Homo sapiens: one gene and its partners. The protein of the gene in region 1 interacts with the protein of each later gene in a pairwise test. Each region holds a gene or a part of one and is shown in the gene's direction. Other genes may lie near its edges.

Region 1 (7,028 bases):
CCTACTTGCACCTCCATACCAGGCTCCCTGGCCTTGGGGCAGAAGCTTCTGAAGACTGGGGTGGAGCACCATGTGGAGGGGCCATCGAGGAACAGAGGAGCCAGAGTTCAAGTGAGGACAGCGATGGCACTGCAGGGCCACAGCCTGGTTTACCTGCCAAGTTTCCAGTTGTGCTTCTGGTGGGTGTCCGGCCCGGGTTGGAGTTTGAAGATGAGCAGGAAAGGTCTCCATCCAGGTGGCTGCAGATGGCTGCTCACCCAGCCCCTACTGAGAGGCCACGGTCCCAGTTCTGGTTCTCTGTCCTGTATCCAGGAGTGGCAGGGTAGCGAGGCTCTAGCTTCCAGGTTGGGGATGGAGACAGTGGGGACAGTGCCATGCCCCGAGCCTGTGCTGTTGGGCAGCTGGTATCCTGCTCCCAGCCAGAGAGTGTACATCTTCGTGTAGTGGATTTTCCTAACAACCAGGGGACATGAGGGCAGGTTGTTTTCCCTGTTTTACAGGTGGCAAAATGAGATTCAGGAGCAATGTCTCCAGCATTTTTGTCCTCACCTTCTGAATAATAGCAGCCATATTTGGGCCTCTGAAGGGCTAGAGTTCTCTGAGGAGCTGCTTCTCTGATCTCTGTCCTGCACTTGGCCTCTGGGAGCTCCTATGGGTCCTCAGCAGAGTCCACAGGGCTCTTCGGAGTCCCCTCCCTGTGCCACAGCCTGGAGCCTGTCCTTAGGTGGTAAGCTGAGGCCGCCACTGCGCTCACCTCATGGGCTTGGGGGGAAAGTGAGTCACCCAGGAAATAGACAATGAGCTCTTTATTGTCTTTGGAGTCTGCTGGAGCCAGGGAGGACAGATGAACCCCATGTGAATCCTGCTTCCTGGAGCCCACAGTGTGGTGGGTGAGGTGACACCAGGAATCATATAACTAATAGGAGGTAGCATGAGGGAGGCCTGATATCTCACCACCATTGCCTCCCCCTCCTCCAGAGAGGCCGTGTTGGTGCAAGGCTATAGGATGTGGTATTGTTGGCGTGGAGGATGGTGTTTGGTTAGAGTCACCATTGAGAGTCATAGAGGGAAGCGAAGCTCCCCTTGAAGGGCTTTTTTTTTTTGGCTGGACCTGAGAATTAAATTGACATAAGACAGGTACACAGGAGAAAAGCACGTACGACTTCTTTTTTCTTGAGATGGAGTATTGTTCTGTCACCCAGGCTGGAGTGCAGTGGTGCAATCTCGGCTCACTGCAACCTCCGCCTCCCAGATTCAAGCGATTCTCCTGCTTCAGCCTCCTGAGTACCTTGGGATTACAGGTGCCCACCCTTGCGCCTGGCTAATTTTTGTATTTTTAGTAGAGACGGGGTTTTGTCATGTTGTCCAGGCTGGTCTCGAAGTCGAGCTCAGGTGATCCGCCCATCTCAGCCTTCCAAAATGCTGGGATTACAGGTGTGTGCCACCATGCCCAGCCAACACACACATTTATTTAATGCAAGTTTTACCTAGCACAGAGAAGCAGTGAGAGTCAGTTACTTATATATTGAATTGGACCAAGTAACTTGTGAAGAAGCTAGTAAATATATGGAGGCTAAAAAGCTGAGTGGTTCTGTTCTAACAAGGTCTGCACAGTAATCTCTTGGCCTCGACTTCTCATCCTTAAAAATAAGGAGATCGTCCTATGTTTCCCTGGGGACTTTCATCTCCTGCTTTTAGGAAACACAAAAGAGGTCAAAGCATCTTATTGCGCCTGCTGTTTTTCAGTAGCCTTTAACTGATAATAGTCAATGGGCCAGGGTGGGTGGGCAGGTGCGATGGCTCACATGTATAGTCCTGCCCAGGTGGGTGCATCCTTAGAGCCCAGGAGTTCAAGACCGGCCTGGGAAACATAGCAAAATGCTGTCTCAAAACCAAAAACCAAAATAAAACCAAAAACCACAGACACAGACACACACACACACACAGAAAATCATGTCGTGTGAAGGAATACAAGCAGAATGCATACCATGTGATTCCTCATCTTATTAAAATACAACTAATCTATTGTGATAAAAAGCAGAAGAAGCATTGCTGGGGACATAGGAGCAAAGCAGAAGAGAGGATTACATTGAAAAATGAAGAAACACTGCAGGACGGTAGACATGTCATTATCTTATCGCGGCGATAGTTCCACAGTGTATACGTACATCTCAACCTACCAAACTACATGCTTCAAAAATGTACACTTTGTTTCATATCCATTATACCACAATAAATCTATTTTAAAAAAACCTTCAATAGAATATAAGCACTTGAGTGTATACTGTATTCCCTATAGCACTTGCACATAGATCATGGAAATAGGTATGCATAAAAAGTCAGTACCCAGTTAAAGTGGAATTCTAAAAGGTAATTAACATTAAAATGTGCAGGGGAAAAAGGAGTAAAAAAATTAGACTAGACAACCGTAGTTTAAATGGTAAACGTATAGGTCTATTTTGACTAACAATTATTGCACTCCCTGTAAATCCACTGAGCACTACAGTTCAATGGTAGAAATGTTTGGAAGGGCTGAAAAAACAAGACTCAGCTATATCTTGTCTATATGAGATGGGCCTTAAAAGGAAGACACAGATGCTGTCTGTGGAAAGCAAATAGATGGAAAAAGATACCCCACGCAGAGTGTAAGGCCAAGAAAACTGCCGTGGCTATCTCAGTATCACATGAAGTTGATTTTGTTAGCGGTGGACGAGATCCGAGTTACCCTACGTTGAAGGCGGCGAATCCGTATGGGTCCACAGCACCTTCAGCTCTTCGCCTCCTGAGAAGAAAGAATTGGACTGAGGGGCATAAGGCAGAAGGAGAGACAGAGGCAAGTTTCAGAGCAGGAGTGAAAGTTTATTAAAAAAGCTTTAGAACAGGAAGGAAAGGAAGGAACGGAAAGAAAAGAAGGAAAGTACAACTTGAAAGATGGCCGAGCAGGTGACTTGAGAAACAGTGCACAGCCGGACTGCCTGAGTTGGGGTTTTATAGGTTGGCCTACTTCCAGGATCTTGCCTTACTTCTCCCCACTCCTGAAATCTTATTGGGAAGCTGCTGATCAGTTTCAGGTGTTTTCTATGTATTAGGAGACTGCCTTTTTCTGGCATTGGCTGTAACCAGTTCTTACTTTAGAGACACGGTTATCAACCACCTGATGGTCGCCCAACACTGCTGGTGTCAGAAGCGGGGAGCCCTCTCCTACCCTGCTCATACCTGACTAGCTGCCTACTGTAACAATTTTAGGACATAGAATATTATGGGAGCTCAAAAGGGACCCTTGTAGTTAAAAAGGTTAATTCTTCAAGGAGTATAATAATAATCACAAATTGTATATGCCTAGTAATACAGCTGCAGAACACATGATGCAAAAAGAGAATGAAAAGGAGATTAAATCAGCTGTTTCTCTGTAATTGACAGAACGGTCAGATGAAAACCCCGGTAAAGTGGCAAGCGATCTGCACACTATCAACCACCTTGACTTAACTGACATTTAAAGAGCAGGAGTGGAACATCCACTGAACACTGATTCCTTTCTATGCTCATGATACTTTCACCAAGATAGACTGGGTTCTGGGATATAAAACACGCGATATGACCTCTAAACTTAATGAAACGAGACTGGAAGTCAGTAATAGTATCCATAGGGAATTCTAAAATTTGGTTATTGAACAATACACTTCTAAAAAATCTGTGGTTCAGAGAAGAAATCAAAAGGGAAGGTAAAATGTTTCAAAATAAATAATAATAATATAACAGCAAAACTGGTGGGAAATGGCTAACAGTGCTCGGAGTGAAATAATACAGCTTTCAATGTGTCTATTAAAAAAATTGGGGAGATGGGGAGTTACTCCTGAAGGGTATGCAGTTCCTTTCTGGAGTGATAAAAACATTCTAAGATTGATTATAGTGATGATTGCATAGCTATGAGTATATTAAAAAACTACTGAAATGTAGACTAAATGGGTGAATTATATGAATAATCATAATTACTAATTATGTGATTTGTGTCTCGTTAAAGCTGTCAAAAAAAGAAAAATATGTGAAATTTATGGCCTGAAGATCTACATTAATCAATCATAAAATATAAGCATAAATTTAAACCAAAGTAACAAGGAGGAACATAAATCAAGGAAATAGAATAGAAACCACAAAAAGAACTGACAAAACGGACTGTGTGTGGTGGCTTACGCCTGTAATCCTAGTACTTTGGGAGGCTCAGGCAGGCAGAACGCTTGAGCTCAGGAGTTAGACCAGCCTGGGCAACGTGATGAAACCCCAGCTGTATAAAATACACCAATATTAGCCCAGGCATTGGGGCACTCTCCTGTCTGTGGTCCCGGCCACTTAGGGACTGAGGTTGGAGGACCACTTGAGCCCGGGAGGCAGAGATTGTAGTGAGCAGAGATTACACCACTGCACTCCAACCTGGATGACAGAGGGAGATCCCGTCTCCAAAAAAGAAAAAAAAAAAAAAAGAGTTGAGAAAATGAATAGTTGCTCTTGAAAAGGAGTAAGGGTGTGAGAGCAGAGAAAGGTGACAGAGACATCGCCTGAACCTAGAGGGACCCCAGCTCTAGAAGGGAGGATTTGGGAAATGTGCATTAGCTTCACTGTCACCAACTACTAGGCAGGCTTTCATGTGGAAGAAAGCTACATTTTGTCTTGCTGAGAGCCAGGTAGTTGAACAGAGCCCAAGGTAAGTAGCTTTTATTGTAACCATTTTGTTTTTTCTCAGGAGCAAGATTATATTAAATTTAATTAAATGTAAATTTACAATTAAATTAATTTTGTACTTTTACACACTCCCAACTTAAAAGTTACAAAAACTATGCAAAAAAAATTTGAAAAATAGCTGTTGGCATGATGAAAGCTATTATTGAATTTTTCAGTGTGTACTTTCTACAAACAAGGAAATTAACATCAACACATTACCACTATCTAATATGCAGACTCTATTCCGATTCTCCAGTTGTCTTCTCGTCGTCATTTATAACACAGAGATCATGGCCATAATCCCTGAATTGCTGTTTTATCTTTTTCTGTCACTCTTTGATATTTAGTGGGAACAGCTTGTCAAGGTCCTTTGTGAAGCAGAAATTACTTAATGTTTGATGCTATATCCTGACTTTCTTTAAGGTTATATTGTAACCCTCATTTGTAAAAATGTGTATTTTTATGTGTGTGTCTGTGTGTGTGCGAGAGAGAGAGAGAGAGAGAGAATATTCACCCACTGGTCAATTAAACACTTGGTCAAACTAAATACATTAGATGCTATTTCTGCTTGAAGGGCTCATATGTGTGGTTTTTTTGTTTTTTGTTTTTTGTTTTTTTTTTTGAGACAGAGTCTCGCTCTTTCGCCCAGGCTGGAGTGCAGTGCAAGCTCCGCCTCCTGGGTTCACGCCGTTCTCCTGCCTCAGCCTCCCAAGTAGCTGGGGTTACAGGTGCCCGCCACCATGCCCAGCTAATTTTTTGTATTTTTAGTAGAGACGGGGTTTCACTGTGTTAACCAGGATGGTCTCAATCTCCTGACCTCATGATCCACCCACTTTGGCCTCCCAAAGTGCTGTGATTACAGGCCTGAGCCACCGCGCCTGGCCTTTTGTGTTCTTATAAAATCTTTTCTTGCCAACTACAGTGGTGTGTTCCTGTTACCCAACTTGCTTGGGAGACTGAGGCGGGAGGATCACTTGAGGCCAGAAGTTCCAGGCTGTAGTAGACTATGATCACACCTGTGAATAGACACTGCATTCTAGCCTGGGCAACATAGCAAGACTCTATCAAAAAAAAAAAAAAACTCTTCTGCTCATATTTTCTGGGGTAAATATATTTTATGTTATAATATGATAAAAGGATACGGAGGTGTTTTTCTTTATAGAAAATAGCTACCTAACAGGCCAGGGGACAAACACGGATGCAAAAGAATGAAAGTTTGGAATGGGAAAAAAGTCCAGGCTCTCATGGGTTTTGTCACTTGGGGTGAAGGGAATGTGAGACGGAGCCTGGGAGAGGTAAGGTCTGGAAGCCACTCAAGCCCATCTCTGCCTTGTCCCCACAGGTCCGGGTTGACTCTGCCACCATCCCCCGGCAGGACGAAGTTCCCCAGCAGACAGTGGCCCCACAGCAACAGAGGCGCAGCCTCAAGGAGGAGGAGTGTCCAGCAGGTGCACTCTTATTTTTAAAAATCAGTTTATTTTTAGTTGACAGATAAACATTGTATATATTCATGGTGTACACCATGATGTTTGGAAATATGCACGCATTGTGAAATGGCTAAATCAAGCTAATTCACATACTTATCGTGTATTTGTTGTAAGAACACTTAAAAGTCTACTCAGCAATTTTCAGCTGTATGGATACAGAGCCCTGGGATAAGCCCTCTTTGCCCTCCTCACCTGTGGGTTCTGTAGCCATCCTCATCTGTGGGTGTTGCATCCGTGGTTGCAACCAACACAGATCAAAAATATGTGGAAAAAATAATGAAAATGATAACATGTCAATAAAAGTAGATAAAAAGCAATGCAGTAAAGCACTTATTTACATAGCATGTCTATTGCATTAGGTATTACAAGTAACCTAGAAATGATTTAAAGCATATGTACCTGGGGTGTATGCAATACTATCCCAATTTGTATCAGGGACTTGTGTAAGTGCAGAGTTTGTTCCATGGAATATATTCCCTGTGAATAGAAGGCAGGACTGTACAACACATTGTTTTAATAACTGTAGTCACCATGTCACACAATACATCTCTTGAATTTATTTCCCCCTGTCTAACTGAAATTTTGTATCCTTTGACCAGCATCTCTCCAACCCACCGTGCAAATACAGCGCTGGTAATCACCATTCTACTCTCTACCTCTATGAGATCAAGTTTTAAGATTCCACATATGTGAGATCATGAGGTGTTTGTCTCTCTGTGCCTGGCTTATTTCACTTAGCATGATATCTCCAGGTTCATCCATGCTGTCACAAATGACAGAATTTCCTTCTTTGTTGAGGCTGAATAGTATTCCATTGTGTCTATG
Region 2 (7,028 bases), on another chromosome or scaffold:
GTAAGACTTTGGGTGGAGTGTGTAGACCACTGGATAGTCACTGACTTCTAAAATATGTATTATAGTTGTTTATGGTTTAACTCTACGAGGTAAAGCATACACATAGATATTTACATAATAATTTACTTAAAGTACCCTATCTTGTTTTTTAATGTGAGTCAAATTCAAAGATGTAAGCCAGATGAGTCCCCGGACCTCATGCAATTTCTGAAAAGAAGTGATTTCTTATAATGTGTTATGTTGACTCTGCTTAGATAGCCAAGAATGTATTTAAGACATTTTCTGAGAACTCTAGCTGCCAAATAAAATTGCTGTTCTTATTCTTCAAATGATCATTTCCCATTGGTGACATTTATTTTTTATTCTTATTTGTCTTTTTCTGAAAGACGTGAAGAAGTTCATGGAGAAGCACAACGCGTATTAAGGTGTCTTCCAGGTAGAAACAGAAAAGAAAGTACTTCTGAGCAGATGCCTTCCTTCCCAGAAATGGTTTATTACATCCAAGAAAAGGTATGGCATGCAACTTAAGGTAATTAGTCTAAATCATAATGGATGATGAAAATAAAAACATCTTTAAAGTGAAAAATGTAATCACTAGATGTTGACTCATAAAATTTCTTTTTCTTTTCTTTTCTTTTTTTTTTTTGAGATGGAGCTTCGCTCTTGTTGCCCAGGCTGGAGTGCAATGGCACGGTCTTGGCTCACTGCAAACTCCACTACCTGGGTTCAAGTGATTCTCCTGCCCCAGCTCCTGAATAGCTGGGATTATAGGCGCCTGCCACCAAGCCCGGTTAATTTTTTGTATTTTTAGTAGAAACAGTGTTTCACCATGTTGGCCAGGCTGGTCTTGAACTCCTGACCTCAGGTGATCCACCTGCCTTGGCCTCCCAAAGTGCTAGGTTTACAGGCATGAACCACCATGCCCAGCTGACTCATAAAGTTTCTAGCATTAATACTTACAATAAGAAGAAGATACAAAGTGAGGAAAAAAAATTGTAATCCTCACCTGTAATTGATCTGTTTTGCCTAAACTTGAATTACTTATAATTCCTTTCATGCTTGGCAACATTTTGGCTGTGTTAAATATTTTTTCCCTTAATATGACATGCTTAAAAATACATCTCCTTTTTTTAAAATTTTTTTATTTTTTTTTGAGACAGGGTCTTGCTCTGGTCACCCAGGCTAGAGTGCAGTGGTGTGGTCTCAGTTCACTAAAACCTCCACGTCCCAGACTCAAGTGATCCACCCTCCTCAGCCTCCCGATAGCTGGGACTACAGGCGTGCACCACCGTGCCTGGCTAATTTTTTTATTTTTTGTAGAGACAGAGTTTTGCTATATTGCCCACGCTGGTTCTCCTTTTTATTTTTAAGGGCACGCTTTAGGGTAGTGTAAGTTTAAGGATGCTTCAGGGAACAGTTCATGTTCTTCCCACCGTGTTCATAAGAGAGCATCCCATCTGCTTTTGTAAGTTTTTGCTTTTGCACAGTGTTTTCTGCTAGTAGATCCAGGATATTGGCAGTAATGACCATCCACCCCCTCCAGGCCTTGACTCTGTCCCACTTTGCCGGAGGACACCTTCCTACCTTTTACCTCCACTGGTGATCCTAGCTCTTTGCTAGGTAGGCACCTTAAGGGAGTTGAAGGTCAGTATGCAGCGGCCATGATTCTGTTTTCCACATAGCAGCACAGTCTATTTGTGGTCAGAAGATTCTCTGCTTGTAGTTTCCTCCTACTTTGATTATTAATGAAAATAACTGGCATGCAGTGACCTGAGATGACCATATTAGTAGATGTCTGGAATAGGTTTATTATTTTTAAACAAACCAGAACAAACATGGAAAAAGGGCAATACACTTGTCTTTTAGTGTGTGAGGGACATGCACGATCAGCATGGTTAATAGGAAAGTGGAAAATGTTTGATCAGAAAAAGAAGCAAACTTAGGACATGTAGCTAGAAACACAGTTGTTTTTGAGTTGAGGAAGGGCAGGTATGCTTCATTTTTCAGTAATTGTGTCTGTTTTGGACTTTTTAAACTTAGGCTTCTCATCGAATGAAAACTCCAGTCAAGTACATGACCGGGACCACTGTCCTTCCATTTAACCCAGCAGCCTTTGGAGAGGTAGAACTTTCATATATTTCTATTTACTTTTTGTAAGTGTTCTAAAAAGATCACACCACACCCAAAGAGGGGTCTGTCATTTTGTTGTGTTTTAGGTAAACCCATATTGTGGTGTCATTGTTCTTCATCGGGTTGTTTATTTAAAAAAAAAGTATTGGGAAATTGGTATTATTTTAATTCATAGTGAAGTATGTAAATATATTTATCTCAGTGAGATTCTTTTTGTGAAAAAACTGGATGTTCTGTAGTGATTACTATTGGGATTTTGCAGCAAGTTAGATTTGGGTTTTAAAGCCAACCTGTTGTTGAGGTTGTTAGGGTTATTTAGTTTTGAAGGTTGGAGAGGATTAAATTGATCACACTTATTAAGGGAAATTCTGTTTTTTAGATTATTGACTTGCTCTAGGTAAATTACAAGAGGTGATCTTGTTCGGATTAAGAATATTCACAGTGAATTTGCTGCCTATCCTATTTTAACGATCAATGAAAAAGCTTCCAGAGGATGGACTCCTTGGCAGCCTGTTTATGTAAGGGTTGTTTTTTTTGTTTGTTTGGTTTTTTTTTTTTTTGAGAAGGAGTCTCACTCTGTTGCCCGTGCTGGAGTACAGTGAATGGCGTGATCTCGGTTCATTGCAACCTTGCCTCCTGGGCTCAAGTGAACCTCCGTCCCAGTCTCCTGAGTAGCCATGACTACAGGCGTGCACCACCACCCCTGGCTAATTCTGTTATCTTTTTGGTAGAGATGGGTTTCACCATGTTTCCCAGGCTGGTCTTGAACTCCTGAGCTAAAGCAGTCCTCCTGCCTCAGCCTCCCAAAGTGTTGGGATTACAGGCGTGAGCCACTGTGTCTGGTCTATATCAGAGGTTTTTATGGTGTTATATCTATTTTTCTGTAGATGAATTGAACCCATTTTCTCAGATTCTTGTGTCAATGGAGTAAACACAACTGGAATTCTGCAGGAGTAATAGGCCATTTACTTCAGATTTCTTTCCTCTCTCTCTGTCTTTCTCTCTCTCTCACACACACACACACACACACACACGGCTTTTAAAAAATAATGATTTTTATTATAATTTTTAACTTTTATTTTAGGTTCGAGGGTACATGTGAAGGTTTGTTATATAGGTAAATATGTGTCATGGGGGTTTGTTGTATATACTATTTCATTACCCAGATATTAAGCCCAATACCCCATAGTTATCTTTTCTGCTCCTCTCCCTCCTCCCACCCTCTCTCCTCAAGTATACCCCAGTGTCTGTTGTTTGCTTCTTTGCGTTCAGAAGTTCTTATCATCTAACTCCCACTTATAAGTGAGAACATGTGGTATTTGATTTTCTGTTCCTGCGTTAGTTTGCTAAGGATAACAGCCTCCAGCTCCAATTTCTGACTTTAAAAGTTCAGTTTGTATTTTAACAATCTTAAAAAATTCTTTGGATTTGCAAACCTTATTATACAAATTTTGCTCCATTATGGCATATTTTCTGCCTTCCATGAGGATTGGAATAGCTTTATAAAGAAGTGTGGGTGAATCAAAACTAGAAATTGTTACTTTGAAGAGTACCTTCCCACACTGACTTTTCGAGAAGCTTATGCAGTCTTCCTCTCCGTTCTGTTTGTAGATCGTTCTGTACTTGCGCATGTGCCTTGCGCACAGTGCGGGGGTGGTGCCCACCTCTCAGAGTTTGGCTGATATGCAGGATCATGCCCCAGCCATTGGGCGCTACATACGGACTTTAATGTCAAGCGGGCAGATGGCACCCTCATCATCTAACAAGAGTGGGGAGACTAACCCTGTCCAGATCTACATTGGCCTGCTTCAGCAGCTGTTAGCAGGTGTTGGAGGTAGGAATATGTGACGCGAAGGAAAGATACTGAAGCACTTAAGCAAAAATCTAATTTTAAACTTTGCTAAGAATTTATAGCAAAATTATTCTTTTTCTTCTGTAACTGAACATTAGCCTTTGTTTCTTTTTAAACTTACCTGATTCATTCTGGATACACTACTTCTTTTTTCGGAAAGAAATGCTAACAATAGATAAATACATTTTTACTTCGGAAGTGGATGTGAAGAACAGGATATCCTTTTTATAGATAGCTCATCTGTAAATTTGCTGTAGTGAATCACATACTATATTTAGGTTGTGTAGGTTTTCTTTTTTTTTTTTTTAATAGAACCGAAAGAATGTGTGCTAAAGCAGTGGCCTTATACTTTAAAGGAATTTAGTGATCCCTGTATGTTCATTACTTTTCTTGAAATTTAAGGTGATTCTGAATTCTTATTTAGGTTTGCCGGTTATGTACTGTCTATTGGAAGCTGTGTCAGTGTATCCAGAAAAGCTGGCTACCAAATTTGTAGACAAAACAGAATGGATAAAGGTATGTTCTGCATGTACCTTTTTTTAAAAAAAATTCTATTTCAGACCTTAACTTCATGATTTCTTTTTCCTGCCAGCGGGATCCCTATGACCTTTTCTGCCTTTAGGTCGTTTTGAAAACTCTCTTATCATCAGACACTTACTGGGAAGCATGTAGGTCACTATGTCTCATTGACACATCTGGAGGAGATTGGGAGATGAATTGAGAAGCATAGGAGTAAAAAAAAGTTCCTTTTCTGTTTCAAAAGTTTTTTTTTTTTGAAAAAATAAGCAATAGATTTGTGTAGTTTAAATAAAAACTATGTAAAATGTCTCCTTTCCGTAACCATCTCCAACCTACCCAAGCCTTCTAATTTTTGTCCTTTCCTCTCCCCTCTGACAAACATATATAAGTGACCACTTATATATGGCATGCTTTCTAGAGTTTACTTATGTACATACACATAAAAACATGCATTTAAAATTTTTGTCCCATCTTTTTATCAAAAGCAGCATACTATTCATACTGTTTTATACATTCTTTCACTTAATAGTAGAGAACTATTCCACTACAACTATGGAGAGAGCATCTTCTTTAACAGCCTCAGTTTTTATTGTATGAATGTACTATCATGTATTCTAGATCTTTATAGATGGTCATTTAGAGTACTTCCATTCTGCTGCAATGAATAATCTATCATCTTGCATATTGAGGAAGTATATGTTTTAGATGGATTCCCTAGAAGTGGAATAGCTGTATCAGAGGACATGTGTTTTTGTAATTTTCATAGGTAATGCCACACCCTCCGTGTGTGGTACCAATGTACACTTCTAACAGTCATGTATGAGGGTGTCCCTGTCCCATGGCCACACCAAAAGGGATGCCAGGTTTGGAAAATAAAAATACAAGATACTCAGTTAAATTTGAATTTCAGATAAATAATGAATAATTTTTTTTTTTGTATAAGTGTTGGCCCATACAGTTTTCTGTATCTCCATGTGCTACATATTGCGGTTCTTTTTTTGGAAAATACAGCTTGAATGATGGTAAAAATGTAAAAATTATGTCTTTAAGTGTGAAAACATGAATGAAATTTGCCAGGAGGTGTGAGTTTTGCACATTTCTGGATAGTCTGGTCTTATGAAATTGCTTTTAGTTTAAAAAGGTTTTTTTATTTCTTATGAATATTGACTGATTTTAAAATGATTTTATTGAACTTTGATGTTTTAGATGAGAGGTTGTCATGCTATAGTCAAAGGTCCAAATAGGGCCTGCCTCCTGTTTTTGTATGGTTTGCAAGCTAAGAATGGTTTTTACATTTTTAAATGTGGAAAAAAAAATCAAGAAACGAATAATGTTTCATGACACAAACATTGTCGTGTCCATGTTTTACTGGAACCCAGCCACGCTCATTCATTGTGTATTGTCTGTTGCTGCCTTTGTACTGCAGTGGCAGAGTGGAGTAGTTGCAGCAGAGACCAAATGGCCCATAAAGCCTTTTTGTTTTTTTACAGAAGTTTGCTGACCCTTGTTTTAGATCATCTGTGAATAAATTTCACCTGTTTTGTACTTGTGTATCTTTGACGAAAATGGACCTAAGATTTTGTTATCTAATTCATTCAGCTTTCATTTTGTTTTCAAATAATGGCTTGTTTTTTTCTCAATATCCATCAACAGATTGAACGTTCTTTTAATTTTAAAAGATGTTGTCATCAGGCACGTGGTTCTGTGTCATGTATATATTTGTTTTTTTTTTATACTGCTCAGAGTCTGATGAATAACAGTAAAGAAGAAATGCGCGAACTGGCAGCGTTGTTTTATTCTGTAGTGGTATCAACAGTGTCGGGGAATGAGTTGAAATCAATGATAGAACAGCTTATAAAGACTACAAAAGACAATCACGTATGTTATTTTGTTTTCATTCTTTTTTGTGGGAGATAGGGTTTTATAAAAGGATCTAACTTATTTTTGACTTTTATGTTCTCATTTGTAAAATGAACTTACAAATTCCTTGCTTTTATGACCATAAAGAGTAAATGAGATAGGTGATACATTGGTTCAGTCAGCTCACTTAACAGATACGGGTGCTGTGTCTGATAAGCACTGTTTTAGGTGCTAGGAGTACAGTGATTCATAAATACATGAGAATCCCTGGTACAACAGGATGCTCAGAGCCTGCAGCCGTACCACCGTGAACACACCTAATCTCATCTGATCTTGGAAACTAAGCAGGGTCGGGCCTGATGAGTACTGAAAGCGAGAAATGTTAGCTCCTTTTTTCTTCCTCATCTACTGCTGCCAGTGAAAAAACAAGTTTTACTTCACATAGTTTGTTGGTTACCTTGTGTTTGGAGGTTTTGGCAATTAGAAATAGGATCTGTTTATTGTCTTTTGTTGGCAATAGGAAGACATTATGTGTGAAAGTTATGATATTCTAGTTACATAAGTGCTGTAAGCTGGAAAGTGGCGTGGGAGCATGTAGGAGCATGTAGGAAAGTCATCTCACCCGGAATTGGAGTGGGCATGGAATTACAGAATGTAAATCTTAAAG
Region 3 (7,028 bases), on another chromosome or scaffold:
AAACCCCGTTTCTACTAAAAACACAAAATAAGCCAGGCGTCGTGGCACATGCCTGTAATCCCAGCTACTCGGGAGGCTGAGGCAGGAGAATCGCTTGAACCTGGGAGGCGGAGGTTGCAGTGAGCTGAGATCATGCCATTGCACTCCAGCCTAGGCAACAAGAGCGAAACTCCGTCTCAAAAAAAAAAAAAAAGTTTTCCCCTACCAGATTTATTTATCCAGGGCTTTGAATTGAAGCTTAACAATTCGATGAAAGCATGAGGTGTTTATAATTGTGTTGACAGATACTAAAATGTCTGATGATGCTGGTGACACCTTAGCCACTGGAGACAAAGCAGAAGTTACTGAGATGCCTAATAGTGATTCTTTACCTGAGGATGCAGAAGTGCATTGTGATTCAGCTGCAGTTTCACATGAGCCAACACCAGCTGACCCCAGAGGGGAGGGGCATGAAAATGCAGCTGTGCAGGGTGCAGGGGCTGCCGCCATTGGGCCCCCTGTGCAGCCTCAGGATGCCAACGCCCTGGAGCCCCCTCTCAATGGAGACGTGACTGAGGATACACTTGCTGAATGTATTGATTCCGTCAGCCTTGAGGCAGAACCCAGATCCGAAATACCCCTGCAAGAACAGAATTATCTGGTAAGAATGGGTCATTCAATTCACTTCGGCCTAAGTTCTTGCTTATATCTACCGTGTGCAGAGCTAGCACCAAGCTCTGTGGGTGGGAATTGGGAGTTCAAAATGTACTGTGACATCCCCTCTGTCATCAGAAATGTGTAGTGAGATTAGACATATATAAAAATAATTTGTCATAATATTTGCATTTTGATAAGTGTATTATTAACAGTAACAGCCACCAATTATCAGACACAAGCCGTGTGCCAGGCACTCTGCTAGCCACTTTCTATGTTATGTAATTCACTCCATCAACAGTTCAAACCTGGGTATTACTAACTCCAGCTTATACCTGTGGCAACCAGGCTCAGAGGTGGTAGCTTGTCCTGGGCTACTTGGTTGTAAATGGAAAACATTGTAATATCACACATCATGACTCCAGATAATTAACAAGCCTGATTCCACCCTAAACAAGTCAATGTTTCTTTAAGATCACTTAAAATCTGATGTATATTTACAAGTCCATAGTGGAGATCTTCAGCCTTCAGATCACTGTTTTATCATCACACATCACCTTCCAGGGGAACAGAGGCAGAATGCACTCATCACCCCTCCCCTTTCAGTGCCTGCACCTATCTCTCAGGGTATGAGATAAGCCAGATCTCCCTGTTGGCACCTGGGCCACCAAGAAGACTATCCCAGCAGGGTTTTCCTGGAGCTTTCACCTCCAGCCATGTGGGGCCGGGCAGGGGTGGGAGACGCCCCGCATTAAAGAAGGAGACAGGCTGCTCTCCTCATCCTGTCTGGAATGGACTGCCTTCTAGAAGGGTGGTGCAGGAGGGAGGAATTGGGGTCTTCCCTCAGCCAGGCCCAGCCCTGTTCATCCTGAAGTGTGCCACCACAGATCACCCCCTTGAGGTGACTCTGCAGCATGATGTGAGGGACAGGAACTAAACAGGGAACTAGGGGCCCTGGGCATTCACCCTCCAATCTATCATTAACTCCATGAGCTTGGGCCAGACAAACTAATGTCTCTGCGCTTCAGGTTTTTCCTCTATGAAGTGAAGAATTCTCACATGAAGACTTTGATGCATCCTTCTGACTAATGTTTTATGACTCCTGTATTCAAGATTGGGCTACCCTCCCACCCACTTTTCTCAAGGGGTTTGACCCTCAGAACTGTCTGCGATGGGCTTCCTCAGGGGCAAGGTGTTTCCCTTCACTGGAAGTGTTTAAACAAAAGCTGAACAGTCATTTTGTAGGGATGTTATGGAAGCAATTTGAGGACCAGCTGGGAGTTTGAATCAGATAGGGTAAACATAACACAAAATTTTGTTTATGAGTTTCAAGAGGTCGCTGACCCTTTGAAGCCATCCATAGATGCCCTAAATAATTAAGGGCCCCTAGACCAGAAGTTCTCAACTTCAGCTGAATGTTACCAACCACTGGGGGAGATTTAAAATGTATTGAAGCCTGGGCAATGTGGCGAACCCTGTCTCTACGAAAAATACAAAAAATTAGCCAGGCATGGTAGTATGCACCTGTAGTCCCTGCTACTTAGGAAGAGGCAGGAGGATCACCTGAACCCAGGTGGTCAAGGCTGCAGTGAGCCGAGATTGCACCATTGCACTCCAGCCTGGGCAATGACAGTGAAACTCTGTCTCAAAAAAATAAATAAAATAAAATAAAATAAAATAAAATAGAGTAGAATAGAATAGAATAGAATAGAATAGAATAGAATAGAATAGAATAGAATAGAATAGAATAGAATAGAAAATATTGATGCTAGGGTCCCAAGCCCAAGGATTCTGATTCAGGAATGGGGCTTGGACATCAGCAATTTTTAAAAGTACCCCAAGTGGTTGTAATGTTTGGCCAGGATTGAGAATAATTAGTTTAGGCTAAAGAATTTTCAAAGTCCTTTTTATGATTCTTTGAGTAAGTGGTCTTCAGTATCATTCCAGCTCTAAAATGCTGTGGTGCTACAATAACACTTCAAAAGTATCTGGAGACAAGCCCTTTCATTCTTTTGGCTACTAGGACACTTTTTCATCCATTGATCTTAGAACAACAACAATAGCAATAACAGCCACAAAACACATAGGAAGTAAAAGTGGGACATTAATAAGCCGCAGGTTTGGCAGTTTGCATGGTATTGGTGAAGAGATGGACCACTAGATTATGTCAAGAATCAGCCCAAATAGGAAATGGCAGAGTGAGGATTTGAACAGAGTCTTCCTGACTCCAGAGCCTGCTTTGCCTCCACACTGTCTGTCTCATGTAGGGAGCTATGGTTCCCAATTTTCATCCTAAGTGCTACTGTTAACAAATATCTTGGTACAGTAAGAAAAATATAACTTAGCCACACCATTATCACCTAAGATGACTTAAACTATACAAGCTCTACTAATTCAAAATCCATACTAATTCAAAATCCATATACATTCCAATTTCAGACATAATAATTATAACAGGACTGTTCATGAAGATAGCATAGTAAGGCCGGGCACGGTGGCTCATGCCTGTAATCCCAGCACTTGGGGAGGACGAGGCAGGTGGATCACTTGAGGTCAGGAGTTCGAGACCAGCCTGGCCAACATGGTGAAACCCCGTCTCTACTAAAAACACAAAAATTAGCCAGGTGTGGTGGTGCATGCCTGTAGTCCCAGCTGCTTGGGAGGCTGAGGCAGGAGAATCTCTTGAACCTGGGAGGTGAAGGTTGCAGTGAGCTGAGATTGAGGCAGTGAGCTGAGATTGAGCCACTGCACTCCAGCCTGGGTGACAGCGAGACTCTGTCTCAAAAAAAAAAAAAATCAGTATGCTTCTACCACATTTGCCTTAAATGTTTTGGTCAAATGGAATGAATCTTGCTTTGAAAACACCTTATAAACCTCCTGAATGCTACAGAAATTGAGCTGGTTGGTAACAGGTACTCCACCTTCCCCACCCCCTACAACACTGACAGCATTTCAAGGACCTTGGAAAGGGGAGAAATTCCTAATAATAGAGCACCACGGAATTACCTGGATGGAAGTGCAAACACTGGCCACAGAGTCGGGCCCGTGGCTCTGGATGTATTGTGTTGGGTCAGAAGCTCAGAGGGAACAAAGGAGTGGGGACAGTACCTGTGAGTTTGTTTTAAGAAGGGCAGGAAAGCCGATAGGTTGGCTGAAAGGGCCTGGAAGAGAGGATATCACTTTCACCCAGGTCTTATTTAAACCATTCTACGTAGGTGCAAATTTAGTCTCTTTTTAAAGATTACCAGGAAAGGGGATTCTACTGTCTCTCTTAGTAGCTTATCCTTTTATTAGAAGTCAATTTTATGCCTAGTCTTTGATTATTGTTCATTTTTTTCTATTTTATTTGCCTCTTGTTGCATACTCATAAGAAATCATTTTGCACTGATGAAAACAACTCTTTCCCTGTTGCTCCAGAGCAGAGTGAATTGTACAAAACAAATTCTTGAATCTAAAGTTCATTACAAGGTGGTTGTTTGGATTGAACACAGGCTGCCCCTGAGGAATGGCAGGTTCTGCAGGAAAATAGCCAAGTGCAAAAGCCTATTTGACCCCATGTACATCTACACCTGATAAATTCTCATCAGCCCTTTAAAAAAGTTTCTGACCAGGGCCGGGCGCGGTGGCTCACGCCTGTAATCCCAGCACTTTGGGAGGCCGAGGCGGGTGGATCATGAGGTCAGGAGATCGAGACCATCCTGGCTAACAAGGTGAAACCCCGTCTCTACTAAAAATACAAAAAATTAGCCGGGCGCGGTGGTGGGCGCCTGTAGTCCCAGCTACTCGGGAGGCTGAGGCAGGAGAATGGCGTGAACCCGGGAAGCGGAGCTTGCAGTGAGCCGAGATTGCACCACTGCAGTCCGCAGTCCGGCCTGGGCGACAGAGCGAGACTCCGTCTCAAAAAAAAAAAAAAAAAAAAAAAGTTTCTGACCAGGTGCAGTGGCTCACACCTGTAATCCCAGCACTTTGGGAGGCCGAGGGGACCGGATCACCTGAGGTCAGGAGTTCGAGACCAGCCTGACCAATATGGAGAAACCCCGTCTCTGCTAAAAATACAAAATTAGCTGGGCATGGTAGTGCATGCCTGTAATCCCAGCTACTCGAGAGGCTGAGGCAGGAGAATCACTTGAACCCGGGAGGCGGAGGTTGCGGTGAGCCGAGATTGCACCATTGCACTCCAGCCTGGGCAACAAGAGTGAAACTCCATCTCAAAAAAAAAAGTTTCTGTGAGGAATGCTTGCTTTACTAAAAAAAGAAAACGGGCAGAATAGACTTTGAGGACGTACTTCTAAGGCACATTAGATTTTGTGATAATGCGCATAAATGTGTGTGTGGTGTGTATGTGTATGCATATATATTTGTAAGTACCTGGATCTGGATCCCCTTAAAATCCACATCATTAGGCTCACATTTGCCTCAGGCAGCAAGGCCACCATAACTTGGCAGATGGGGTGTTGCGACTAGCAGGTGGCCAGAGTCAAGGAGGAGGCCACCTTTCTGGCTGGCACCTCTGTTTTTAAGGACCACACCATTTATGCACTCGGATAAACTATCTCTATCTTTAGGGCTTCTTTGCTTTCTTGTCCTTTCTGACATACAGACTCAGAAGCCATTGAATTGAGCCTTCTCCTGTAGGAACCCACTCTACAACCTCCGTGAGAAATGGTCCTCAGCATTGGAGGTTGGACCGGATTCTCTAAGGCCTCTGCCAGCATCATGACACAATGCATTATGCCCAGAAATCTGGGTGGTGTAACTATCTTCAGGATGCCTACAGTCTAGTTGGGGGAAACATTGTTGTATGAGAGCAATGATTACATGTCCTCTAGTACTAGATAGGACAGGCACAAGGGAGGCTTTAGACAGAGCATTTAAATTCGTCTTAAAGAATCAGAGAAGTCTTCAGCCTCAATTCAAAGATGTTTGTCTTGAGTACTGGTTGGGAGTAACATTTGTTCCCAGAGCTCTTATGGGACCTTATTATATACTAGCCAGTCAACCCTTAAAAGACCCAATCTAGATTAAATTTCTCTGAATTCTTAACACCAAGAAAGGTTACCCAGAATTTTTAAAATGTCATCCCTACTGCTCAACACCAACGCATAAGGCCGATTATGGAGAAGGTCAAGAATCCCAATGTTAACACTGTTGAGTACTCTCATGGGAAAACATGGGAGTGTGGACCACCATGGATAGTTCTCTCCCTAAAAAAGGAGAAGCAGAATGTTTAAATGCCATAAAGTTATGGTCAAGAGAGACAAGGAGTAGGGGACACAGGCTGAGACATGACAGCATTTAGCCTCCTAAACCGGATGAGCAGAGTTTTCTCCGGTTCTGTTTGAGTATTTTCCCTTTTTGGCCTGCTCTAAAAGGACAGAGTTCCCTACTGCCTACGTTCCTTATTCTGTGTTCCCTGAACGGTGACACCCAGTTTTGGCTTGGACAACCAGGTGGATGGAGGTGCCATTCTGCCATAGAGAGCAGTGCTTCCCAGATCTGGAGGTGTATTGGAATCATGTGGGGAGCCTGTTAAAAATTCAGATTCCTGGGCTCTACCCTAAGAGATTCTTAGGCACAAGATCATAGTGGAAGCTGAGACTCTATTTTTAATGAATTCCCCCAGGTGACACTCTTACAGTCAGTCTGTGGACTAGAGTTTGGGAACCACTAACACTAGGACACAGCAAGAGCTAGTTGGGGTACGGGGAATAATTGAGAAGATGGTGAGTTCAGTTGGTTTTTGGTTTTTGGTAGAGACGGGGTCTCCCTGTGTTGCCCAGGCAGGTCTGAAACTCCTAGACTCAAGCTCTTCTCTCACCTCAGCCTCCCAAAGTGCTGGGATTATAGGCGCAAGCCACCGCACCGGCCTGAGTTCAGTATTAAATATGCCATGCAACATCCAAGTGAAGATACTTTGTGGACAGTTGGTTAAAATGGTCTGGAGAGATAGGTGATTCAGAGGCTATCAGCACCTATGTGGTTATTTCAGTAATGGAAGTGGGTAAGATGGCTCAGGTGTTAACATATAAATAACAACAGAGGCCAAGCCCTCAGCCCTGGAAGGTTTCTGTCTCTAAGCCAGTTTGGTTGGGCACAGCTCTTAGGGTTTTGTTTTGCTTTTTAAATAGATTATGGTAGCTAGCAAAGAATTTATAGTACAATCTCACCACTACCACATTCTATAAGCGAAATCAAGTTTCAGATCACATTGTACCACACTGACATTTTTAAATGAAACGGTAATTAACAAGAGAGTTGAAAATGGTGTATGAGAACTCTTTCTCATGTAGGCTTGAGAACATCCCATTGTTTAGGTGCTTTGATCACCATCTTGAATGAAAGGTTTACTCAAGGCAACTGTCTGGATTTCAGAGCTAAGGTTTCTTCCCTGATAG
Region 4 (7,028 bases), on another chromosome or scaffold:
CGGTGACCCACGCCTTTAATACCAGCACTCTGGGAGGCCGAGGTGGGCAGATCACTTAAGCCTAGGAGCTTGAGACTAGCCTGGGCAACATGGCAATACCCCATCTCTACAAAAAATACAAAAATTAGCCAGGCATGGTAGTGTGCACCTGTAGTCCCAGCTACTTGGGAGGCTGAGGCAGGAGGATTACTTGAGCCTGGGAGGTCAAGGCCGCAGTGAGCCATGATCCTTTCTCAAAAAAAAAAAAAAAAAAGTACTGAAAATTAGCTCATACATACATATTTAAGCATAATTACTGGGTTTTATATAGTTTACATGTTCTAAGGTATCTCTGAAAAAAATAATCTTCTAATGAAATAATCAGCAAATGATTGGCTAATGGCAATCATTAGACAAATATTGGATGATTAAACTTAAAAAAAAAAAAAAACCCTTGCTGGGCACAGTGGTTCATGCTTGTACTTTGGGAGGCCTAGCACTTTGGGAGGCCAAGGTGGGTGGATCACTCGCGTTCAGGAGTTCGAGACCAGCCTGGCCAACATGGCAAAACCCGGTCTCTATTAAAAATACAAAAATTAGCTGGGCATGGTGGCGGGTGCCTGTGATCCCAGCTACTTAGGAGGTTGAGGCAGGAGAATTGCTTGAACTCAGGAGGCAGAGGTTGGGGTGAGCCAAGATCAAACCACTGCACTCCAGCCTGGGTGACAGAGCAAGACTCCATCTCAAAAACAACAACAACAAAAAAACCCTTTTACCTGTTTTTTTCATTCTTGTAATTGAAGTATAATACAAATCTTAAGTGTAAAACTCAGTGAATGTGTACACGTTACATCCAGGTCAACATATAATCATCCCAGAAGTTTCCTTCATGTCCCTTTGCACCAAGCCCCCACCCCCAAAGAGATTACTGCTCATCTAACTTTTATCACCATACATAAAGTTTTGCTTGTTCTTGAACTTCAATTTGAATCATACAATGTATATGCTATTGCATTTGGCTACTTTTGCTTAACATAGCATCAGTGAGAGTTGTACACGTTTTTGCATGTATCAGCCATTTGTTCTTTTTCATTGCTGTGTAGTATTCCATTGTGCACCTAGACCACAATTTATCTGTCTAGTTTCTTGCTTATGAACATTTGGACTGTTTCCAGTTTTTGCCTCCTGTATTTAAAGCTGTCGTGAGGCCAGGTATGGTGGCTCACACCTGTAATCCCAGTACTTTGGGAGGCCAAGAAGGGAGGATCACTTGAGGTGAGAAGTTGGAGACCAGCCTGGGCAACATAGTGAGACCCATCTCTACAAAAGAAGAAAAGAAAAAATTGAGGCCAGGCACGGTGGCTCACACCTGTAATCCCAGCACTTTGGGAGGCCGAGGCGGGCAGATCACGAGGTCAGGAGATCGAGACCATCCTGGCTAACACAGTGAAACCCCGTCTCTACTAAAAACAAAAAAATTAGCCAGGCGTGGTGGCGGGCACCTGTAGTCCCAGCTACTCGGGAGGCTAAGACAGGAGAATGGCGTGAACCCGGGAGGTGGAGCTTGCAGTGAGCCGAGATCGCACCACTGCACTCCAGCCTGGGCGACAGAGCGAGACTCCATCTCAAAAAAAAGAAAGAAAGAAAAAAAGAGAAAAGAAAAAATTGAGACACAATATAATTCACCCTTTTAAATAAATGTGCAATTCAGTGGTTTTTCGCATATGCACAAGGTTGTGCAACTGTCACCACTGTCTAATACCAGAATGTTTTCATCACTCCAAGAGGAAATGTTATATCCATTCATAATCACTCTACATCCCTTCCTTTCCTCAATCCATGTCAACTACTAATCTACTTTCTGTCTCTATGTTTGTTTGTTTGTTTTTGAGATGGAGTTTCGCTCTTGTTACCTAGGCTAGAGTGCAATGGCGCAATCTTGGCTCACCACAACCTCTGCCTCTCGGGTTCAAGCAATTCTCCTGCCTTAGCCTCCCGAGTAGCTGGGATGATAGGCAGTAGGTGGGATTACCACCATGCCCAGCTAATTTTTGTATTTTTAGTAGAGATGGGGTTTCTCCATGTTGGTCAGGCTGGTCTTGAACTCCCGACCTCAGGTGATCCGCCCGCCTCAGCCTCCCAAAGTGCTGGGATTACAGGCGTGAGCCACCACACCCAGCCCTATTTCTATGTTATTTAATACTTATTCCTGACATTTAATAATGATGGTCAAACTTTTAATATATCAATTTCTTTGATTTTTTTTTTTCTAGGATCCTAAGCACTTCAAGTCAGAGAAGACAGGACGGGGACAGTTGAGGGAAGGCTGGAGAGATAGTCATCAGCCTATCATGTGCTCCTACAAGCTGGTGACTGTGAAGTTTGAGGTCTGGGGGCTTCAGACCAGAGTGGAACAATTTGTACACAAGGTAAGTGGTCCAACAGCAGTTCCTGGGCTGTGGACAAGGTAACTGTCTATATTGCCAAATTGGAGTCCATGATACACAACAGGTGCACAAATACATCAGGTCACTGCATCTCAAAAACACTTTTTGGGCCGGTTGGGGTGGCCAACACCTGTAATCCTAGCACTTTGGGAGGCCGAGGCGGGTAGATCACTTGAGGCCAAGAGTTCAAGACCGGCCTGGCCAACATGGTGAAACCCTGTCTCTACTAAAAATACAAAAACATTAGCTGGGCATGGTGGTGGGTGCCTGTAACCCAGCTACTCAGGAGGCTGAGGCAGGAGAATTACTTGAACCCGGGAGGCAGAGATTGCAGTGAACCAAGATCGTATTATTGCACTCCAGCCTGGGCAATAAGAGAGAAACTCTGTCTCAAAAAATAAGAAATAAAAATAAAAAATAAAAAAATAAAAAATACTTTTTGGATGAAAATGCATTTTATGCATAGGTTCAATTTTCTTCCACTAATAGATGTTTTATGCCCCATCTCTCATTCTGTGACCTCCATGTCTATTAGGCAAGCGTATTTGGGAAACACACTTCTCAGTTTGGTATTGGACTCATCTACTCCCAGACAGAGAAACTTGGGAAACAGCCAAAGGGCTTATCTGTGAGCACAGCCCCTAAGGTTAATTGCCACCCAAAAGATCTACAAATGTAAGCACCTAAGCAGAAGATGCCCAGAGGTAGAACAAGAAATCCCAATAGTCCCATTAGACAGTATACCCCAGCATTTCTGCTTCTTTAATAATTCTGTTACTAAAGTAGCCAGGTGTGGTGGCTCATGCCTGTAATACCAGCCCTTTGGGAGGCTGAGGCAGGTGGATCACTTGAGGTCAGGAGTTCGAGACCAGCCTGGCCAACCTGGTGAAACCCTGTCTCTGCTAAAAATACAAAAAAATTAGCCGGGTGTGGTGGCACGTGCCTATAATCCCAGCTACTCAGGAGGCTGAGGCAGGGAGAATTGCTTGAACCCAGGAGGCAGAGGTTGCAGTGAGCCAAGATCGTGCTGCTGCACTCCAGCCTGGGTGACAGAGCAAGACTCCATCTCAAAAAAAAAAAAAAAAAAAGGAAATAATAAGAATAATTCTGTTACCAAATAATTGTTAACAGCCTCGGGATGCAGATTTCAATTGTAAACCTACTTTGGCTAAACATGTTCATTTTGGTTTTTTGTTGTTGTTGCTGCTGCTGTTGTTTTGAGACGGAGTCTCACTCTGTCGCCAGGCTGGAGTACAGTGGCACAATCTCAGCTCACTGCAACCTCTGCCTCCCGGGTTCAAGTGATTATCCTGCCTCAGCCTCCCGAGTAGCTGGGACTACTGGGAGGTGCGCACGCCACCATGCCCAGCTAATTTTTGTATTTTTAGTAGAGATGGAGTTTCACCATGTTGGCAGGGATGGTCTCGATCTCTTGACCTCCTGATCTATCTGCCTCGGCCTCCCAAAGTGCTGGGATTACAGACATGACCCACCGTGCCCGGCCGGCATGTTCATTTTGTAGCAGAATCCCACTTGGTGAAGAGTCATATTTTCTCAGGGTTTCTAACATGACTCTGTCCCTCATGGGAGAAAAAAATGGGAAATGCAATGTTGAGCATTGCCCTTTGTAGCTGCTCTCATTTTCATAAGAATAAATACTACCCAAATTGTCTCTACATTCCAGATAGGCTGGTTATCTGTTTATTTTTCCACTTAAAAACTGATAAGAGTAGCTTGCCAAAATTATTTTGGAGTCACTGGAATTTAACCTTAATGCACTGAGCTTTTTGTTACTTAGATGGATTTGTCTATTGAGATTGGGGGCCAGTTAACAATAAAAAGTTTAATTCTGGAATTTAGGTCCAAGAACTAGACTGCCAGTCTCTTGAACCCTCATAACTCAGGCTCACGGTAATGGCAGACTCTGGCACAAACATGAGAGCCCTGGGTGTTTTCTTGAACAGAGAAGCATGCCACTCCTTTCCCGTGCTCCAGAACCCAGCCAGCCAGCCAGGAGCCAGAATGAAATGTGATACGTAGAAATCAAGCTCCAGGATCTCCTGTTTTCCTCCTGTGTCCTGATTATTGCACAGGAAAGCAATTGCAGCTCCCAAAGTAAATGTTTTCCAGCCTCAGCTTTGTGTCTATCTAAGGCAGTGTCTTCCTTGGTTTCCCACAGCATCCCTTTTTGTGTGTGGCTTTTTAAGGTAAAAAGACTTCCTCTTACTAGGGCCACTATCATAGTATTATTTTGTTTTGTTTTGTTTTTTTGAGATGGAGTCTCAATCTGTTGCCCAGGCTGGAGTGCAGTGACATGATCTCGGCTCACTGCAACCTCCACCTCCCAGGTTCAAGCAATTCTTGTGCCTGAGCCTCCTGAGTAGCTGAGGCACAGGTGCATGCCACCACACCAGGCTAACTTTTGTATTATTAGTAGAGACGGGGTTTCACCATGTTAGCCAGGCCAGTCTCGAACTCCTAACCTTAAGTGATTTGCCTGCCTCGGCCTCCCAAAGTACTGGGTTTACAGTCGTGAGCCACCATGCCCGGCTTCATAGTGTGTTTTCCACTCACAAAGCATATTTAATAAGGCAGAGTTGTCAGTTAAAAAGAGAATAATACAAAATAAAAATAAGGCTGGGCGTGGTTCACACCTGTAATCCCAGCACTTTGAGAGGCCGAGGCAGGCAGATCACTTGAGGTCAGGAGTAGTTCGAGACCAGCCTGGCCAACATGGTGAACTCTCATCTCTACTAAAAATACAAAAATTAGCTGGGCGTGGTGACAGGTGACTGTAGTCCCAGCTACTCCAGAGGCCGAGGCAGGAGAATCACTTGAACCCAGGAAGTAGAGGTTGCAGTGAGCCTAGGTCGCGCCACTGCACTACAGCCTGGGGGACAGAGCAAGACTCTGTCTCCAAAATAATAATAATAATAATAATAATAATAATTTAAAAGGCCATATTTATATTGCCCCAGGGTCCACTGTGTTTCTTTTCTCACAGATGACTCAGGCTAGTTTTGAGAATCTGTTTCCTGAAAATACCTGTAAGATTTATGCCTTGCCCTTTCCAAATATAAGGAAGTGTTATTGACACTCCAGAAACGCACCTGCTCTCGCACGTGAGTCGCTAATGAGTATCTGAGGCTAGCATTTGCATGGGTTGAAGGTGCCAGGGATGCCTTTCTCTGAACACCTTTGTTTTTTTAAGAATCTATTCACAGTTAAGGGGAAAAAAATGTTCGAAAGCGAGCCATGAGCACATTATTGAATTCTGGTTTCCAGCCGACAGCTGTGTTGTGCTTCGTGTAATAGGGTACATTTACTGATGCCTCGATGCTGTTCTTTTGATTTCCATGAATTTGAGACACTCAGCACTCAAGTGTGTATAGCTGTGTGTTGTTTCTTGTATTCATTATGTGTTTCCTACTTTCAAGTCATAAAAGCCTCACTAGATATCCAGAGGCCTGGAGTCATAAACACTTCATTATAAATGCTTTCCTTGTTTCTGCAAATTCACTGAATTAAAATCCTTCATTTATTGAAACATGCTTGAACCTTCCACGAGAGGTTTTTCACAATCACTGGATTTGTTTGGCAGGAAGAAAGGAATGTTACAGGGATACTGTGAGTATCCAAGAAATGTAAAAAGACATATTTACCCAGGATGGAAAAGAATACCATGAAATAAAAACACATGAACAGTATCTCACACACGCAGACACACACACACACACAAATGGTATATACTATTTTCCTTAGCCTTCTATTGCCATTATGTGTCACCATAAGAAACAATTTCATCCTTTTTGTGTCCAGTCAAGCTTGTCATTCCCATTACGTTCTATTCTAGTTCAGGTCTCTTTTTTCATCCTTTCAATGGTAAACGGCCTTTTTCCCCCTCTTCTATTACATGAAAGTCAAACCTAAAAGGATATTTACTTATCTTGTATCTCACACATTCATTTATGCTTGTTTAAAAATTGAGGCCAGGCGTGGTGGCTCATGCCTGTAATCCCAGCACTTTGGGAGGCCGAGGCAGGCAGATCACAAGATCAGGGGTTCGAGACCAGCCTGACCAACATGGTGAAACCCCGTCTCTACTAAAAAAATACAAAAATTAGCCGGGCATGGTGACAGGCACCTGTAATCCCAGCTACTCAGGAGGCTGAGGCAGGAGAATCACTTGAACCAGGGAAGCGGAGGTTACAGTGAGCCGAGATCGCAGTGAGCCGAGATGGCGCCACTGCACTCCAGCCTAGGGGACAGAGCGAGACTCCGTCTCAAAAAAAAAAAAAAAAAAAAAAAGATAAAAAGAAAAATTGAATCAATATTTATTTTTTAAATAATTTTTTGTGGGTACATAGTAGGTGTAAACATTTAGGGGGTACATGAGATGTTTTCATAAGGCCTGCAATGTGAAATAGGCACAATGTGAGGAATGGGGTATCCATCCCCTCCAGCATTTATCCTTTGTGTTACAAAGAATCCAATTACACTCTTAAGTTATTTTAAAATGTACAATTAAAAAATTGAATCAGGCTGGGTGAAGTGGCTCACACCTGTAATCCCAGCACTTTGGGAGGCCAAGACAGGTGAACT

The links.
Region 2: the proteins of TNFRSF10D (region 1) and ECPAS interact in binary tests that used the Homo sapiens proteins (3 or more experiments, as listed by UniProt).
Region 3: the proteins of TNFRSF10D (region 1) and FAM114A1 interact in binary tests that used the Homo sapiens proteins (3 or more experiments, as listed by UniProt).
Region 4: the proteins of TNFRSF10D (region 1) and PITPNC1 interact in binary tests that used the Homo sapiens proteins (3 or more experiments, as listed by UniProt).

The regions. Positions count from the first base shown.
Region 1 is NC_000008.11:23,154,010-23,161,037, reverse strand, and holds part of TNFRSF10D (tumor necrosis factor receptor superfamily member 10D precursor), read left to right. Parts: intron 1-6,058; coding exon 6,059-6,164; intron 6,165-7,028. UniProt on the Homo sapiens protein: Receptor for the cytotoxic ligand TRAIL. Contains a truncated death domain and hence is not capable of inducing apoptosis but protects against TRAIL-mediated apoptosis. Reports are contradictory with regards to its ability to induce the NF-kappa-B pathway.
Region 2 is NC_000009.12:111,411,365-111,418,392, reverse strand, and holds part of ECPAS (proteasome adapter and scaffold protein ECM29), read left to right. Parts: intron 1-386; coding exon 387-510; intron 511-2,040; coding exon 2,041-2,121; intron 2,122-3,741; coding exon 3,742-3,964; intron 3,965-4,406; coding exon 4,407-4,498; intron 4,499-6,244; coding exon 6,245-6,379; intron 6,380-7,028. UniProt on the Homo sapiens protein: Adapter/scaffolding protein that binds to the 26S proteasome, motor proteins and other compartment specific proteins. May couple the proteasome to different compartments including endosome, endoplasmic reticulum and centrosome.
Region 3 is NC_000004.12:38,877,787-38,884,814, forward strand, and holds part of FAM114A1 (protein NOXP20), read left to right. Parts: intron 1-284; 5' UTR 285-292; coding exon 293-640; intron 641-7,028. UniProt on the Homo sapiens protein: May play a role in neuronal cell development.
Region 4 is NC_000017.11:67,667,256-67,674,283, forward strand, and holds part of PITPNC1 (cytoplasmic phosphatidylinositol transfer protein 1), read left to right. Parts: intron 1-2,252; coding exon 2,253-2,408; intron 2,409-7,028.